2 separate regions of the Homo sapiens genome follow, and region 1 is linked to region 2. Evidence: fine-mapped expression QTL. A gene starts in region 2. The other region holds a variant in brackets. All regions are shown on one strand. Distances are between the middles of the regions.

What was found. PIP is the estimated chance that this variant, and not a neighbour inherited with it, causes the effect.
Region 1: its variant is fine-mapped to the expression of NFIC in fibroblasts (GTEx, PIP above 0.99). The same link has a PIP of 0.9 or more in aorta and whole blood.

The regions. Positions count from the first base shown.
Region 1 is chr19:3,452,964-3,462,183 of GRCh38, reverse strand. It overlaps NFIC (nuclear factor I C), which reads right to left. Exons shown (of 11, transcript NM_001245002.2): 9 at 8,268-8,421; 10 at 5,549-5,634. Among named protein-coding and RNA genes, the nearest start is that of SMIM24, 23 kb to the left of the region's middle. RefSeq lists a silencer at 4,606-4,655. The variant C/T (reference allele first, on the strand shown) is at 5,124.
Region 2 is chr19:3,361,366-3,370,585 of GRCh38, reverse strand. It overlaps NFIC (nuclear factor I C), which reads right to left and starts at 4,003. Exons shown (of 11, transcript NM_001245002.2): 1 at 3,920-4,003. The coding sequence starts at 3,949. RefSeq lists silencers at 944-1,223, 2,995-3,394, 3,685-3,834, 4,285-4,374.

The DNA of each region.
Region 1 (9,220 bases), 92 kb before region 2:
TCTCAAACGCCTGACCTCAAGTGATCCACCTTCCTCGGCCTCCCAAAGTGCTGGAATTACAGGTGTGAGCCAGCACTCCCAGTCTGGAACTCAATCTTACTTTATTATATTATATTATTTATTTATTTATTGAGACAGAGTCTCGCTCTGTTGCCAGGCTGGAGTGCAGTGGCATGATCTCGGCTCATTGCAACCTCTGCCTCCCAGGTTCAAGTGATTCTCCTGCCTCAGCCTCCCGAGTAGCTGGGATTACAGGCGCATGCCACCACACTCAGCTAATTTTTATATTTTTAGTAGAGACAGGGTTTCACCATGTTGGCCAGGATGGTCTCACTCTCTTGACCTCGTGATCCGCCCGCCTCGGCCTCCCAAAGTGCTGGGATTACAGGCGTGAGCCACTCTGCCTGGCCTTTATTTTATATTTTAAAAATTATTTTCTTCTCTATTTATTATTTATTTATGAGACAGAGTCTTGCTCTGTTGCCCAGGCTGGAATGCAGTGGTGTGATCTTGGCTCTCTACAACCTCCGCTTCCTGGGTTCAAGTGATCCTTGTGCCTTAGCCTCCCAAGTAGCTGGGATTACAGGCCCGCCCCACCACACCCAGCTAATTTTTGTATTCTTAGTAGAGACCGGGTTTCGCCATGTTGGCCGGGCTGGTCTTGAATTCCTGGCCTCAAGTGATCCGCCCACCTTGGCCTCCCAAAGTGCTGGGATTACAGGCGTGAGCCACTGTGGCCAGCCAATTTATTATTTTATTTTGAGACAGGGTCTTGCTCCGTTGCCCAGGCTGGAGTGCAGTGGTGCCATCATAGCTCACTGCAGCCTCCATCTCCTGGGCTCAAGTGATCCTCCCACCTCAGCCTCCCGAGTAGCTGGGACCACAGGTATGTTCCACCACATCTGACTAGTTTTTTTTTTTTTTTTGTAGAGGTGGGGTTTCGCCATGTAGACCAGGCTGGCCTTGAACTCCTTCCTCCCAAAGTGCTAGGATTACAGACATGAGCCACCACATCAGCTGCCTTGTTCACTTTATAAAGAGGTTTTTTGTTGATTTTTTGAGACAGCGTCACGCTCTTGTCACCAGGCTGGAGTGCAGTGGCACGATCTTGGCTCACTGCAACCTCTGCCTCCCGGGTTCAAGTGATTTTCTTGCCTCAGCCTCCCGAGTAGCTAGGATTACACGCATGCGCCATCACACCCAGCTAATTTTTGTATTTTTGGTAGAAACGGGGTTTCTCCATGTTGGCCAGGCTGGTCTCAAACTCCTGACCTCAGCTTATTCGTTTGCTTTGGCCTCCCAAAGTGCTGGGATTATAGGCATGAGCCACTGCACATGGCCTTGAGAATGTTTTTAAAAAGTAAACAAGAGGCTGGGCTCGGTGGCTCATGCCTGTAATCCCAGTACTTTGGGAGACCAAGGTGGGTGGATCACCTGAGGTCAGGGGTTCGAGACCAGCCTGGCCAACATGGTGAAACCCTGTCTCTACTAAAAATACAAAAATTAGCCAGGCGTGGTGGCACGTGCCTGTAATCCCAGCTACTCGGGAGGCTGAGGCAGCAGAATCGTCTGAATCCAGGGGGCGGAGGTTGTAGTCAGCCAAGATCGTGCCATTGCACTCCAGCCTGGGCAGCATAAGACTCCGTCTCAAAACAAAAACCAAAAAAACCAAAAAAAAACAAAAAAAAATTCTCCTCTTTAATGATGTCCCCGGTATCCCCGTGAAGGAGGGGGTAGGTCTCCCTCCACCGCTGTTTTGTGTGAAGAAAGTGAGGCCCAGAGAAGTCAAGGAACTTGCCCGAGGTCACCAGCATGGAAGCGGCAGAGGTGGAACTTGAACTCAGGCCTGTCTGGCTCTGGCTCTCATTTCTGCTCCTGCCCAGGGCCAACCCCCTCGCCTGCCTCTCAGGAATCCCCTTGGCATCTTCTGAGCACTGTCCTGGGCGTCCAGGGCCCATCCTGTCACAGGTCCCCCGGATGGCCCCCTCTTGCTCCACAGAAGCTCACTAAGCACAGGGGGGCTGAGGATGACTCTCAACCTCCCAGAGGCGGGAGACCGAGGCTAAGGGAGGGGAGTTCTGCATGGGGCTGTACCCAAGGTCACGTCATTTGGGGACAGCTCCGGCCTCAGTCTCTGCAGAGAAGCTGCTGTCCAGACCCCTGCCCTGGAAACGCAAACTCCAACCCCAGATGGAGCATCCAGGGTGGACTGTGAGGGGAGGGCTGTGCCTCTGGAACTGGGGAGACCCCTCCACTCCCCAACTGAGGTTAGAGGTGGGGCCGCCCCCCACCGCTGCAGCAAATCATTCAACAGAGCCCCTCCAACCAGGCAGCCACTGGGCCAGCCCATGGAACTGGCGCCACAGTGGTTCCCAGCGCCCCACCTCCAGCCAAGTTCAAGTTCATCTTGGCCATTACCTCATGTCTGGTTTCTGTTGGCAACCGACAGACTCTGGGCGTGACCCTCCCCGTGGTGGACCAGCCTCCCCTCAGCCCTTCCTCCCTCCTCCCTTCCCTCCCCTCCCCTTCCTGCCTGGCTGTGGCCCCAGCAATGGGGCGGGGGTGGGGTGGGGGCACCCTCAACTCCACATCCTCCCACTCAGCTGAGGGGAGACTGAGGCAGTAGGTGTGAAGGGGGAGGTTTGGGCTCTGGTATCCTGCTGGCCTGGCTGCAGCCGCCTGTGTGGCTCCCGGCATGTGGCTCAATGCCCGCCTTGCCCCCCACCCTCGGTTTACCCAGCTGCTTACGTGGGTTCCCGTGCAGGAGAAATGTAGGGGCGTGAAGGACATCACAGAGGGGAGGGGCCAGGGCGTCAGAGCCACCCAGCCTCACAGTGGGGGGATTGATAGGGACGGACATGGGGCGATGGGTGGGTAACTGACCAGGGCGAGATCAATTAGCATAGATCACGGGGAGGGATATTGATGGGGGGAGAGTCCATGGACTGGGGGGTGTCGGGAGCCGGAGAGGCAGAGGGAAAGGCGCGCCCACCCAGGCTTTGGGGGAGGAGGGGGCAGAGGGAAGCGAATCCGCCAGGAATAGAGGAGGCGGAGGCAGAAGTGCTGACTGGCCAGAATCGGAAATGAGAGGCCTCCAAGCTCAGGGCCCTTTGAGCGGGAGCTGGGAGAGGGGAGAGCGGGATCTCACTGCTTCTTCCCTCCCTCTCTCCGGGGTCTGCAGGGAGGTGGCGGCGCCCGGCCTCAACCCAGGTGCTCTTAGTCCAGTCAGGGCAGCAGCAATGGGGTCCTCCCCAGACCTGTGCTCCCTGGATGCCCAGTTTGGGGACCTCGCCTTCCCCCTAACCCATGCTCCCCTGAGAGCCTCTTGACAATGTGTCACCTCCTTTCTGTGCTCCAGAAAGTTCTGACTCCCAGGCCTGGTGGGTGTCCACTCCCTCCCTCTAAACCCTTCTATGGCTCCCCACTACCCCAGAGCAAAGCCCGCATCATCTGTCTGGCCCCTGCCACCGGAGATCTCTCACATTCCAGCCAGCTCCCCCTCCCCCGACCCACACCATTGCCTATGCTGAGCCCCTTGCCAGTGCCCCCCCACACCCCATTCTGCCAGCCCTGGTCCCACCCTTTCTGGGTCCCCAGAGGAGTCCAGCCAGTCAAGATAGGGATGCTGAGAAAGGTGCCACCCTTGCCTGCCTCAGTTTCCCTTCCCTCCCAGGCTTGGGTGGGGTGGGGCTGGAGCCAGCACAGTCTGAGAGAAGGGTCCCGGGCCCTGGCGGGAGGGCCTGGTCAGAGAGTTTGGTCCAAGGCAGAGGCTGGGGAAGGGTTAAGCGGGCTGGGCCTCCTCCCACCGCAGCTTTTATTAGCTTTGGTTTCTGAACCACTTAAGACGTTCCCAGCCTCCCGCAGGGGCAGGGAGCGATGTGGGGTGGGGGTGGCAGAGGTAATGCCGGGCTCCATCAGCACCAGGCGGGGGAGAGGTTGGCCATAGGGGGCCCAAATCCCAAAGCGAGGAGTCCTGGACGTCTGCTCGCTGGGGGACCCTGACCAAGTTACTCCCTCTCCGGGGCTCTATGGGTGCAAGGCAGGGTACTTAATATTTACGGGGTGTGGGGAAGCCTGAACCTTTCAGTGCCCTTTCTGTCCCCCAGTGCCCTTCAAAGGCTCTTGGTGCGGGTGCCCAAGGCCAGAGGAAGAGACAGAGGTTCAGAGTGGGTGAGCCAGCACTGGGCTGGAGCCCTGGCCCCTGACCCAGGATTCCCTCCACCCATAGCACATGGATCTCCTCTGAACTCAGGAGAAGCAGCCTCCATCCCTGCTTCCTCCTCCGGCTGGTTTTGCGGAGCCTGGGAAGAGAGGGAGGGGCCGCTTACAGGCATCCTGGGCACCCAGCACAGGGAGGGAGGGGGAATGCCATGTCCCCTCCCCGCCCCCATCCGCTCAGCCAGGACAGCCCCGCAGGGTCCCGGGGAGGCCCCGTGACCCTTGCCCGTGGGCTCTGCAGCAGGAAACCTCCCTCAGTGGCTGGAAGATTTGAACACGGCCCCTGGGGACCCCATACATCTCCACGCTCTGCAGTTCCGTGGCCGCTGGGTAGCCCAGAGCTCGTTTCTCTCTGAGTCTGGACCTCCCGGGCCTGTGGCAGCCACTCCTACATCCTCCAACCCTCTCCCCAACACAAACCGGGGAGAGAGCAGAGGCTCAAAGGTCCAGCTGCTTACCCATAACCCGAAGACGCGCTCACACACTCCTGGCCTACACAGAGCCCCTTATGGGGGTGGGGGGTGAGGGACACCTGGGCCTGGGGCTAAGGCTGCCCTCCCACGCCCCCACTCCCTAGACTACTGTGCAGCCTCAGGCAATTGACTTCCCCTCTCTGAGCCTCCTCTGTCAACCTCCTGCCTGCCTGCCTGCCTTCTAGGGGTGGTGGGACCCCGGCCATGCTCACTCAGCTGCAGCCGTCTGAACATGTACGTGACTATGAACATCAACGTGAACATGAACGCTGGCCCCTGCCCCATCCTGTCTGTCCTGCTGACGAAGCCTCTCCGCCCTGACTCCTCACACTGGCTTAGATGTGGGCTGAAGCCTGGGGTGGGGGCTTGGATGCTGTCCTGGGAGGCCCCACGCCCCGCCATGGGCTGCCTCAGTTTCCCCCGGCCACCCCG[C/T]GGTCCCTCTAGGCCTCGGCGTGGATGGGGGATGGAGGCTGGAGGAGGGAGGGTGATGCACTGTGTGACCCTGGGCAGACCCCCTTGTCTCTCTGGGCCTCAGTTTTCCCATCTATACCATGGGAAGCAGGTGGTAATGACACTGGTCCCATAGCTGTACCACGATGGTCTCCAGAGACGCTCCTGGGGACCCCACAGGCTGAGTCTGGGGCCACACCCCATCCCCCCAGGACCAAGGTGGAGGGAAATTTGGCCTCAGGGAGAGGCCAGGTGGGGGCTCGAGGCCCAGGTGGGGTGTGGGAGGCTGGCGCCCCTGTGCCAGGGGTGTGGCGTGGGACCCAGCAGGCCCTCTTCGCCCTGAGCCCCCCGGGCCGGCCCCTCTGCCCTGCCCCTCCCACCCCACCAGCCGGCCTCTCGGCCCCTACCTGTGCCTGATAAATGCCCGCAGGATCCCTTGGTCCTAATCCCACAAAGGAACGGTTTGCAGGGGACGTGTCGGGCGGAGAGTAGGCTGCAGGGAGGAGAGAGACCGAGAGCCCGTTAGCGAGGGGTTGTGGGAGCCGGGGCGGCCCTGGCCCCAGAGAGGGTGGCCACCGCCAGGCGTCACACAGCCGGGCCTCTGCACCCAGTGCCTGGGGCCTCCGAGCCTGCCGCCCTACCCCCAGTTGAACCGGGCCCCCCTGAAAGGCCCAAGGTCCTTGGGAGGCGGGGATCCTGACTCGAGGGGCCCGGGGGTCACGGCTGAGATCGCCCAGGTGGGCGGGGTGTCTGCTGAGAGGGAAGGCAGGATGGCTCTGTAATTCACAAAACCGCCCGTGAATTATTCAGGGTGGGCAGCGCCCGCCCGGTCCTGCCACTGAGGGCTGCCTCCGCGCGGGGTGCATGAATTATTGAGGGCGTTTTATTTATTAATCTTCCTCCCGGAGAGGGCAGAGGGAGGGCTGGGTGTGTGCATACATACAGATGTGCGTATTTATATTTCAGCCTCAGCGATTATATTTTGTCGGCGTGTGAGTAACTCACGGCCTGGGGCTACAGCAGGGATGGGGGCCTCAGACAGGCCGGGACCCAGGTAGGGGGAGAAGAAGCTGCAACAGGCAGGGTCCCCAAGTTGTCCTGGCTGGGGTTGGGGGGAGCTGGAGGCAGCGAGGCTTATGGGGAGAAGTAGGAGTAGATTTGCAGTTAAGAGCCCCGGTGCAGGGAAAGGGGGGTGGAATCCATGCCTATCCTGCATTTATTAAGTGTGTACTGTATGCCAGGCACTGGGCATAATCCCGTTGAGCCCTGAGTGGATACTAAGCAGCATCCTGCATCTATTAAGTGTCTACTGTATACCAGGCTCTGGGCATAATCCCACCGAGCCCTGAGTGGATCCTAAGCAGCATCCTGCATCTATTAAGTGTCTACTGTAAACCAGGCTCTGGGCATAATCTCATCGAGCCCTGAGTGGATCCTAAGCAGTATCCTGCATCTATTAAGTGTCTATTGTATACCAGGCTCTGGGCATAATCCCACTGAGCCCTGAGTGGATCCTACACAGTATCCTGCACCTATTAAGTGTCTACTGTATGCCAGGCTCTGGGCATAATCCCACCGAGCCCTGAGTGGATCCTACGCAGTATCCTGCATCTATTAAGTGTCTACTGTATGCCAGGCACTGGGCATAATCCCACCGAGCCCTGAGTGGATCCTACACAGTATCCTGCATCTATTAAGTGTCTACTGTATGCCAGGCTCTGGGCATAATCCCATCGAGCCCTGAGTGGATCCCACGCAGTATCCTGCATTTATTAAGTGTCTACTGAATACCAGGCTCTGGGCATGATCCCACTGAGCCCTGACTGGATCCTATGCAGTCAACGCTCCCATTTCACAGATGAGCAGGCAGGGACAGCCGGCAAGAATGACCACAGCTGCCTGACACCACGCAGCATCAGGCGCCACATGGAATGTCCTCTCTGCCTCCCTGACCCATGTCACCGGCTTGTCCCCCACTGCCCTGTGAATTGGGCACCAAGGCAAACCCACTTTGCAGCTGAGAAAACTGAGGCTCAGAGAGGGGAAGACACCTGCCTGAGGTCACACAGTGAGAGAGCTGCAGAGGTGGGATTCCAGCCCAGGGTGGATTTGGGGCTGATCTCCTCCAGCCAGTGATCAGAAGCCGGTTTTTATGGGCAGGCAGCCTGGGTTCTGGCACGCAGTGGGGACGGGGACAGGAACGCCGGGGCAGGGAGAAGAGGAGCTGAGGGCACCTAGAAGGAACCGTGGCCACCAACTGCTTGGGTGGGGTGGGGGGTCTCATTTGGAGAGTGAGGGACAGAGATGCTCAAAAAGGGGGGTGAGGGGCAGATGGAGTCCATGGGGAGAGGTCTCTGGGTTCAGAGATGTCTGGCGCCCTGTGAGGGTGGGTGACCCACCCAAGCCTGCATGGGGGTCGTGGGGAGAGTCTGGGGGTAGAGCCACTGCGGACGAATGGGGTGGACCTCAGGACAGGGATGCCAGGACCGAGGGGCCATCCAGCAGCCACCCAGAACCACATCCAGAGAGCAGAAAAATCTAGAAGGTGCAGCAGCCGCCAACCCAGGGGCTTCCAGGTCAGGTGGACAGGCGAAGAGAGTCCCATCTAAAGGTGTGGTCCAGCCCAGGTCACCCAAAGGAACTGGGCCTGGTGTAGCTCCTTTCTCCCCAAGAAGCCAGAACTCTGGAAATGTTTATGTAAAACGTCCTGATTTTAAAATGATAACAACCGATTCTCTTTCTCCACAAACAAAAGACCAGTCTGGGGGTCGAGTCTGGCCCTCGGGCCGCCACTGTGAGATCCGTGTCCACTGTCAGCTGCCTGACATACCAGGGAGGGTTTCTGACGGCCCACGGCGGGCACCGGGGTCCCCCAGGTGACTCGGCGAAGGGGACAGACCCTGGACTCTCACCCTGGCCCGAGGCTTGGTCCGGCCAGCCCCTAAGGCTGCCTCAGCCCTACATGGGCCCAACCACGTGGCCACTGGGCTGTTTTCCGGAGACCCACCAAACTCGCCAGGCCCTGCAGGGTCGGGCCTGACCTCTGACCTGGCAGTGGGGCTGGGGAGGGGACAGGCCCCCCTGCGGACATCCGCCCCACCAGGGCACCGCTTCCCGCGTGCTTACAAGGCGAGGTCGGCGACGTGGCTCCTCCCTCGGAGGTGGTGGCGGGTTTGGTGGCAGGGGGGAGCGCCAGCCGTGGCAGCCCCGGGGGCGGAGGTGCCAGCATCTGAGCAGAAAGGCAGTGGCTGGGCATTTTGAGCTGACCACTTCCATTTAACTGGGGGAACAGAGAGACACGTGGTTAAGGGGTGGGCTCCCCCTCTACCTCGGGCTGCTGGCGCCGGCCGCCCCCGGCTCTGTGCACGGCCCGGACGGGGTGGCAGGCTGGGGGGCCAGGGCGCGGGTGTGACCATGGCGGGTTTGGTGGGTCTGAGGACGGCCGGAGGTGGAGGGGCCTGGGGACACCCGCTTGCTGGTGTCACTCAAAGCCCGGCACTACTGGGGCCACGCTCACTGCATCTCCTCTGTAAACCCCCTGCACGCCAACTCGACTGATTTCCTTCCAAACAGTGCCACCGCCTCCTAACAGCAGGTTCTCCGCGTTTTTCCTAATTCACTGCGAGCACGCCATCATCCACCATCATCCACGGCCTGGCCCGTGGTTCCAAAGTCCGAAAAGCTCTGAACATCCAAAGCTTCCTGTGGAGTCTGGCAAACGCTGTCTTGCTCGAACTGAGTTTGGTGGTTTTTTTGTAATCAATGTCTTCCTGCCCCCCGCCCCCCAACCTTTTTTTTCTTTTTGAGACAGGGTCTCGTTCTGTCACCCAGGCTGGGGTGCAGTGGCACAATCACAGCTCACAGCAGCCTCGACCTCCCAGGTTCAAGCGATCCTCCCACCTCAGCCTCCTGAGTAGCTGGGACTACAGGCGCCCGCCACCATGCGTGGCTCATTTTTAAGTATTTTTTTTGTAGAAACTGGGTCACGCTATGCTGCCCAGGTTGGTCTTGAACTCTGGGCTTATGCAATCCTCCCGCCTTGGCCTCCGAAAGCGCTGGGATCACAGGCATGAGCCGCT
Region 2 (9,220 bases):
GAGGGAAAGACGGAAAGGGAGACAGAGAAGGAGAGAGGGAGAGAGGAGGAGAGAGCGAGATGGGGGGAGAAAGGGAGGGAGACAGAGAGAGAGAGAGAGAGAGAGGAGAACGCTGACTCTGCCAGAATCCCAGCTTTGGTGATTTACAGGGCGCTTGGCCCTGGCGCGCAGAGGCACCTCCGCCGCAGAGAGGGGAGGGGGAGAAACAGAGAGAGATGCACAGAGAGACCCAGAGGGAGATACAGCGGGAGAGTGGTGGAGCCTTGTAGAGAGTGAATCAGAGGCCACCAGGCCCCGGGTGGGGGGCACACGGGGAGAGAGCGCCCACCTGCCCAAGCCGCCAGATGGAAAATGGCCTGAACCCCAGCTCTGCCAGCCCCACTGTGCCACCTCGGGCAGGCCCTGGCCCTCTCTGACTCTTAGCCCCTCTCCCGGCACTGAGGGGCTGCAGGCCCCCTGCTCCTGGTAGGCACCCCCCAAGCTCCCTCTAAGAACCTACACTGGGCCTGGGCCCTGCTGCCTCCCCCACCCCCACCTATCCCCAGGGCCCAGGAGATGCTTAAGGAAGATCTAGAAAATCCAACAAAGGTCGGGGGTCTGGGGTGGGAGGACAGCCTCTCCCAGCCTCGGTTACCCTGCTGGAGAAATGGCAGCAAAGCACATTGTGCTCCGAGAGGGCATGGGACGAACGAATGAAGGAAACAACGAACGAATGAGACAGGGACCCGGTGGCGGGATGGAGGTGGCTCGGGGAATCCGCCACGCTGCGGCCAAGAGGGACTTGGCCCCAAACCCGGAATAACTAACGTGGCGGTGGCGCCAGCGGGAGGGAGGCAGGGAGGGAGGCCCAGAGCAGGCGCGGGGAGGCCGGCCTTCCCGCCGGCAGGATTTATGGGAGCCATGGGCTCCACACAGTTCCTCTTAAGAGTAAAAGTGAAAAAGCGCTTGAGTCACCGCTGAGCCCGGCCCGGGGCTCCCAGAATGCCCCAGGGCCGCCAGCACCCACTCCCCACTCGGCGGGCCGGGCCCGGGTGGCACAGAGCGGGCTGGCACCGAGATGCCCCCCACCCCCCGCCAGCCTCGGCTCCCGAGAAGGATCCGGGTCGGATCAGCTAAAAGGGAGCTATTTTCGGTTGGGCTCAGGTTGTAAAATTAGCTGGGAAAAGGGGGAGAGGGAGGCCCAGAGACAGAGAGAGACAGAGAGAGAGGAGTAAGGAGACACATGCAGAGATAGAGAGAGACAGGGAGAGAGGGGGCAAGGGGAGACACGCAGAGACAGAGGAGAAAGGGAAGGTGAGACAGAGATGAAGAGACAGACAGACATATTGGAGAGAAACAGAGACAGAGAGGAAGGGGGCAGAGAGACAGAGACAGAGAAACAGACAGAGACACATCGGACAGACACACAAAGAAGGCAAAGGGAGGGAGAGACAGAGAGACAGAGACACATCAAAGAGACATGCAGAGACAAAGAGGAGAAAGGGATGGTGAGATAGACATGAAGAGACAGAGACAGTGGGAGAGACTGAGACATCAGAGAGACAGAGGATGAGAAAGAGAGACACAAAGAGACCAACAGTGACTGGGAGTGAAACAGAGGCGGGGAGAGACAGAGATGGAGAGACAGGGAGAAACAGACACACACACACACACACACACACACACACACACAGAGTCAGAGCAAGACAGAGAGAAAGAGAGAAAGACAGACAAAAAGAGACCAAGATGAGAGAAACGGAGGGGACGTGATTCGGGAAACTGAGTCAGGCAGCCAGGACTTGGGTGGGAGGCTCCTGCATGGGGCACTCAGGGTCCTTCTGAGTCCCCCAGCCCACCCCACTGGCTACCCCAGACCAGGCTGGGCCTTGGGGGAACAGTGGGGATTACATTCAGGCTGAAGACAAACTGGAAAGGGGGTCCCCAGCTCCACTACAGGGCTGGGGTGGAGGGCGGGGCAGAGAGGAGAATCGCAGGGGAGGAGGGAGCCCCCTGCACTTGGGACTCGCTGTCCCCACTCTGGCCTGGGAGCTCTCTGCCTCTGTCTCTCTGCCTGTCTCTGTCTTCTCATCTCTGTCTCTTGCACGCAGCACCCCTGGATAGTTTTTAGTTTTTAGCCTCTCCGTTTTTTGGTTTCCACAGACAGCCCTCCTGGCTGGTCCTTGCCCTGTTCCTGGAGAAACTGAGGCCGAGTTAGCAATTCTCTGAGGCAAAGCCTGGACTGGGGTTCTTACTAACCCCCAACCCACCCCAGCAACCAGGATGTCTCCCAACCAGCCCTGATGGGGGAATTCCAGGGTGCACAGGCAGCCTTCCAACCTCCCCAGCCTGGAACAGCCTCCCCTCCGCTCAGCCCTCCCAAATGGCTCCTTCCAGCTGGTGAGGACAGAGCGGGGACACCTCAGTCACCCCACAAGCCCAGAGACTTCAAAGGCTGCCCGAGGTCACACAGCGTGCCCACTCGAACCCTAGTTGTTCTTGGAGAACTTCAAAGAGATGCCTTCTTCGGGAACCCCCCCCCCAAAGCTGCTCAGAAAGGGAAACTGAGGCTGGGACAGGGACTTACCCAAGGTCACTCAGGGGATCACAGGTAGGACAGACCTCAGACCCCCTCAGCACCAGCTCCCACATTCCCTGTCGGCTGCAGGGGGCCGGTGAGAAAGACCCTACCAAGGAGCATGCCTGGCGTGGGGGGTCCCTCACTGCACCATGCCCTGGAGCGGAAGCCGGGGACTCATATACTCCCCACACAGTGCTTCTTAAGACGGGCCTGGCCCTCGCTGGAATCGCACCCCCCACGTGCCGGGACTTTACAGTTTGCCCGCCATACTGTCCCCTCTCCAGAACCGGCCTTAGCCGCACCTCACTTCAGGGGAAACTGAGGCCAGAACCTCTCCAGCCTAAAGACACACTGCGTAAGGAGGAAAGCAGCGGTCTAGAAAACGGAACTTGCAGACCTCGGGGTCCCCGGGAGCCTGGGCTGGAAGGAGTCCCCGGGGGGAGCCGCCCCCTCCCCACACACCCCCTCGGCCATTGCACAAGGCTCGGCCCCGGGGCAGTCTGGGAGTGCGGCCAGGGGTGAGAGGCTACGGGAGGGGGAGGGGGAGGGGGAGGGGACGGGGCAGGTGCCGGGCTGGCGAGGGCGTCCGCAGCGCCGCAGTGCCCGGGCCAGACCCGGAGCGCCGGGCCTCCCGCTCCTCCCGGCGGCGGCTCCAGAATCCAGAATCCAGAATCCAGAATCGATGCAGCGAAAATACCGGGACGGTGCTGGGGGGCTTGCAAAGGAGGGGGGACCCAGCCGGGCCGCCGGAGCACCCTTCCCCCTCCTGGGCCTCCAACTTCTCCTGCCCCCTCCCCCTCCATGCACACGTGGGCCAATAACGAGGGAAAGGCGACCGAGGGCCAGGGCGGCCCGCACAACCTTGGTGGGGGGACACGGGGAAAACACATGAGAGGTCCCTTTCTCTCCAGCTGGGGAGACCCAGGGTCCAATCACGACCCCCTAGATTCCTCTCAGAGGCAGGCGGGGGGCTTCCCGCAGAGCCCTTGCTGGAGGGGGGCCAGCCCCCACCCCGACCTTTCCGAGTGTCGGGGCGGGGGTGCGGAGTGCGTCGGTGTGTGGGGGGGGGACGCAAATCTGCAGACCAAGCCCCACATCCGGGAGAGGTCCCGAGAGTCGGGGTTGGGGGTGCTGGGCGGGAGTCCCGCGTAGGGGGTCCGCGGTAGGTAAGGGTGTGGGGGGGGTACCCCAGCCTGACCCATCCCCCCACCGGACCCCAGCCCTCGGCGCGGGGGGCATCCCGGGCAGGGATGGCGGGAGGGACGCGCGCCTTTTTCGTCCCGCCTCCTCCTGCTTCAAAACTCCGGGGCTGGGATGCGGGGGGCGCGGGGGCGCCGGCGGGGGGCCGGGCGAGGACCGTACCTGGGTGAGGCAGAGCGGGGACGAATACATCCCGGGCGCGGCGGGAGGCGCAGGGCCGGCCGGAGCGGGCGCGCTGAACTTACTGAGTCATTTTTCCAAACCACCCCCCCGCCCCCCCCAACCCCCCCCCCCGCCCCGCGGCCGGCGCGCTCTCCTCGCCGCCTCCTCCCTCGGTCTCCCTCCTCCTCCCTCCTGCTCTCCCTCTCTCGCGCCGCCCGCCTCGCTCTCTGTCCCTCTCTCCCTCCGTCTCTCTCTTCCTCTCTCCCCCGTCTCTGTCTCTCTGTCTCTCTCTCTACCCTCTGACACCCTCCCCCTCCCACCCCGAACCTCCCACTTCTCAACACCCAACTTTCAAAGAAACGAGGGAAAAAAGGGCGCGAGCGAGAAAGGAGAGCCTCCCCCGACGTCTCAGGACCCCCCCGCTCCTCCCGTATTTACGCAATGCCCCAGGGCACTAGACCAGGACCCCAGGACTGCAGGGCGACCCCAATTCGGATCAAGCGGAGAGGGGGGACAGGGTTGTTTCTGGACATTGAGGGGCCAGGGGTGGATTTTTAAGGCCCCCCCTCCCCACCCCCCCATCACCCCCGAGCTGGCCGGGAAGTTGGAGGAAAGAGCCAGGGGGGAGGGAAGGAATGAAGAAGTGACGTGCGCAGAGGCCGGCCAGCGCGCCTCTTTCCCCTTAAAGATGTACGACCCTGGGTGCACGGTGAGCTGGTCCCACAGCACCCTGGCTCCCTTCTCCCCCCAGAGCCAGGCAGGGGCTGCGGGTCCCCAGCTAGAGGGGCTTGTGTGCAGCTGTCCCTTCCTTGGCCAGAAGGGCCCAGGCTAACACGGGAGGCTCCAGAATTTGCTCTCTTCACCCAGCACCCAAGGGGCAGGGGAGGGGTGGCCTCGCCTGTGTGTCTCTCCAGCACCCCAGGAGGACGGTGTCCAGGCGGGATCTCCAGCTGGCCAGATAAACCCTTGCAGCCTCCCCCTGGGTATCCAATAATTTCCACCTGCCTCAGGGGTGTGCCCTTTTCACAGATCTCAAGACTGAGGTATGGCAAGTGTGGCTTGGAGCCAGGCCATCTGGACCTGGAGCCCACATTCTGTTCTCCTTCTAGACGTAACAGGGCAGAGACCTGGCCTGCCTCCGTCTGAGCCCCCAGGGCATCTGATGACAGGGCCCCAACCCTCCCCCGGTTCACTCCCTGGATCCTCCCAGGCTAGCTCAGAGGCTGCTGTGTCTCTCATTCCCATCCCAAGGGTTCTCCCCTATAAAGTGGCTTAAAGATGCCCATCCTGTGGGATTGCTGGGGATAAGGACAATGACCTTAGCAGAGCCTTGACCTTGGGTCAAATGTTCACTAAAGACACATTCTTAGAAAGCTTGGCCATTTCACCTCATCTCTCTGAGCTTCCCAAGGACAAATGATACCCTCTCACCAAGCTGGGGCAGGTGCCCCAGGCCCAGGGGCGCAGAAGATACCAGCACCCATTATCCTCAGGCATTACAGGAGAGGAAACTGAGGCCCAGAGAACGGAAGCCACTTGCCCAGGGTCTGACAGGTAAACTAGGAGGGAGCAGAATTCCTGCAGCGTAGGTTCCCTAGGCCCCCCACAGGCTCCCCTCTGCATGACGGTGACATTATTCAAACAGTGCTTAGTACATCACGAACGGTCCATAAATGTGTGTGTCTGTGTATTTTAAACCCACTGTGCAGCTGTGGGGAGCATTTGAATTAAATGGTGAGAAGTGTATCTGGAAATCCACATACCAATATAACGTGAAGCAATTTATTTTATTAAAACACGCTAGGGACACATACAGGGTGAAATCTAAAATTCACAGATATTTAAAAGTTGCAGTTGACTTCAGACACTCCTCCTAGACTTCCAGACCCCGTGCCTTCCACCCTCCCTCCCCTGTACAGACCACCCTGCCTGCAGCCTTCATTCAGCAGCTTAGAATCCTTTGGAAGGTGAAGTTTAGAGAGCAGAGACTGCCCCTCTTGGAACCTCGGTTTCCTCATCTGTAAAATGGCTATAGTAACAGGATGCATCTTGGGAGGTGGGGAAGGTTGGAGTCTTTACATAGCATGTGGGAAGGCTGTGTGAATATTATTGGTGGCGGTAGCTGCAGGGAGAAACTTCTGCAAGTGTACGAACAGCAGCCTATATCCCAGTTTGGGTGGCAAGGGACCCCCGCAGCACACACAGTTGGTTCCCTAAATTGCCGCGTGGGCTCGCTGCTTGGGTCTATGTCTCCTCCAGTCAGCAGCTTCGTCTCTCTGCACCTCGGCTCTCCCTCTGTGAAATGGGGCGACGCCAGCTCATAACCCTCCAGGTTGTAGGCAAGTCAGCAAATACCTGCCCGTGGTTACAACAGGGAACTGTACGTCATAGTTTCTTTAAAAAGGCAATTGGTAGATTGGGACCTGCATGTGGAGGGCCCGGAAGATGGGTGCATGATTTAGCTCCTGGCACTTTCGAGCACAATCTGGCTCATTTTTTTTTTTTTTCAAAGCACTCTCTCTACAGTTATTTCACTCTTCGGCATCTCTGTAACTGTCCCAGATACAGGAGCACAAAAGAGTTGACTGCCACCTATAAAACTAATGCCCACAATTTGGAGGCAGCCATGCTGTCCATCTGTGGGGGACCGGTTTAGTAATCCCAACACAGGCTGGGACACTATGCAGCTGAGTAAAACCAGTGGCTCCCAACTGGTTATGTCCCCAAGAGACAAGTGGGGGGACAGAAAGCTGGAGAGCTCTCCCCCTTGGCACTGTGGACACTGGGGCTGGATCGCTCTCTGGGTTGGGGCCGTCCTGGGCCCTGCAGGGTGCTGAGCAGAGTCCATGGCCTCCACCCACTCCATGCCAGGGGCACCCCCCAGTCGTGACAACCACAAATGTCCTTAGACATGGCTAAGTGTCCCATGGGAACAGAATCAACCCTGGCTGAGACCCCACTGCTGTAGACCCAGCAAGGAAATTCAAGATCTCATTTAGGGTTTTAAAGAGTACACATGTATTTATACAAATATACATAGTATCCTTTACATACACACACATGCACACACACCCACACACACACATATCTCCTTTGGCCGGTTGTAGTGGCTCACGCCTGTAATCCCAACACTTTGGGAGGCCGAGGCAGGCAGATCACTTGAGGTCAGGAGTTTAAAATCAGCCTGGCCAACATGGCGAAACCCCGTCTCTACTAAAATTACAAAAATTAGCCGGGCATGGGCGAGGGTGCCTGTAATGTCAGCTACTCGGGAGGCTGAGGCTGGAGGTTCGCTTGAACTCGGGAGGTGGAGGTTGCAGTGAGCCAGGATCATGCCATTGCACTCCAGCCTGGGCAACAGAGCGAAACTCCATCTCAAAAAAAAAAAAAAAAAAAATATATATATATATATATATATATATATACACACACATACACATACATATACATATGTCTCCTTTATGGAAATACACGAGTATTTCCACAAGTACATCCTTTATGGAAATATACACATATGCACATGTATCCTCTATAAGTGTGTATTTCTCAGTCCTGCAAATGCTCCAACTATAGATGGTAACATTCTGGAGCGGGGTTCCACCCAGGAATGGGGGTGATCAGAAAGATTGGATTTTTTTTCCTCTGGATACAGTTGTATCCTCTTCATATGATCACTAATGGCTTCAGTAATTAAAGGAAAACTTAAAAAGTTGAATGCAATTCACAGAGCAGCTCAGGCAGGGTAGACAGGAACCCCCAGCCCCCCATGGTAACCCCACAGCCACCACACCCAGAGAATAAAGGACATAATCTTGCAGGCAAATGATTACACAGCAGTGCAGTGTGCAGTCAGCCTCCCCTAGCCCCGCACCTGCTCAGCAAGGGGCTCACAATGTCAGCTCCCCAGGAACCTTGCAAGGGTCCCATGTGGTCCCATTTTACAGATGAGAAACTGAGGCTGTAAGAAGGGATGTTAAAGTCAAGTGAGTTAAAGGTCAGATAGGCCGTTGAGGCTGGTACAGATAGACACACACACCACACACTACGACCTACAGAGACACACAGACACACATCGTGCAGACTCAAGCAGCTGCAGACACAGACTCCACACGACACACAGCTACATACACAAAGACACAAATACACGCACAGACTCACATAAAAACAGACCCATATATCATCACAGCCTTCCCCCCACACCTGACCTCAGATACCTCCTCAAAGAGGGGCGAGCAGAGACACACACACACACACACAGACCCACATGGCACACACACAGCCACAAACACACCCTCCCAACTCCCCACAGGACGCTTCTTGACAAGCACAACGCATGGATATAGCTGCCCCCACACAAGTGCAGACACAACCACAAACACATGGGCACTTGTCCACAATCACAGACACACTCCACACAAAAGCACACACTCTTACAAGCACACACACACCCACAAGTGGAACCCCCCGGTATTCCCATACAGGCACACACAGAGTCACATACGCACCATCACAATGACACACAGCACGCCACCTCCCTGCTCCTCCTGCACCAGCTCTGCCTGGAGCTGGGCTCTCGGCCCTGCAGAAACGCGGTGGGGACAGGGAAGGGCAGGAGGGTGAGATGTGGTTGTCTATCCCCCCGCAAGTGCGGTGTTTGTGTCCGTGAGTGTGTCTGCCCATGTGTGTCTGTGCACGCCTGTGTGTGTGACGTCTGTCTCTAGACAGGCCTGTGTGTGTCTATGTGAGTCTCTGTGTGGTTGTGTGTGCAGAGTCATGCAGACACAGGCACCGTGAGGGAGTGTCGTGTGTGTGTGTGTGTAACTATGACTGCATGCACGTGTGTCCCACTGTGCACAGAACCCAAAATGGGGACAGAGGGCCATGCCGTGTGCTGAAGGCCAGGGCATCCAACCGTCCCTCCGGGAGTGCGGAGGGAGATAGCTGTGAGTCTGAGGCTGGGAGTGGGTGTGAGGGATGGTGACAACCCGAGAATGACCTTGAGTGTTGTTGGGGGAGGCCTCTGTGTCATTGTGGGAGGGTTTTCTCTCCTTCTTGACATCCCAAACAGCCCCCCATGATGGGATGTCAAGAAGAAAGCGAGAGAGACCAGCCTGGCCTTGGGCTTTTTATATTTAGAAAATTATATCAAACGCACTGGGGGTGGGGTGGGGGTGGAGAGCGGCGGGGATTTCCCTGGAGGTGACAAAACAGCTCTCTGTGCCCACGGCCTCTGGTCCATTGGGGGCAAGTGCTGGAGGCGGGACTGCGGGACCAGTCCCGGTGCCCCTACGCTCTCCCCAG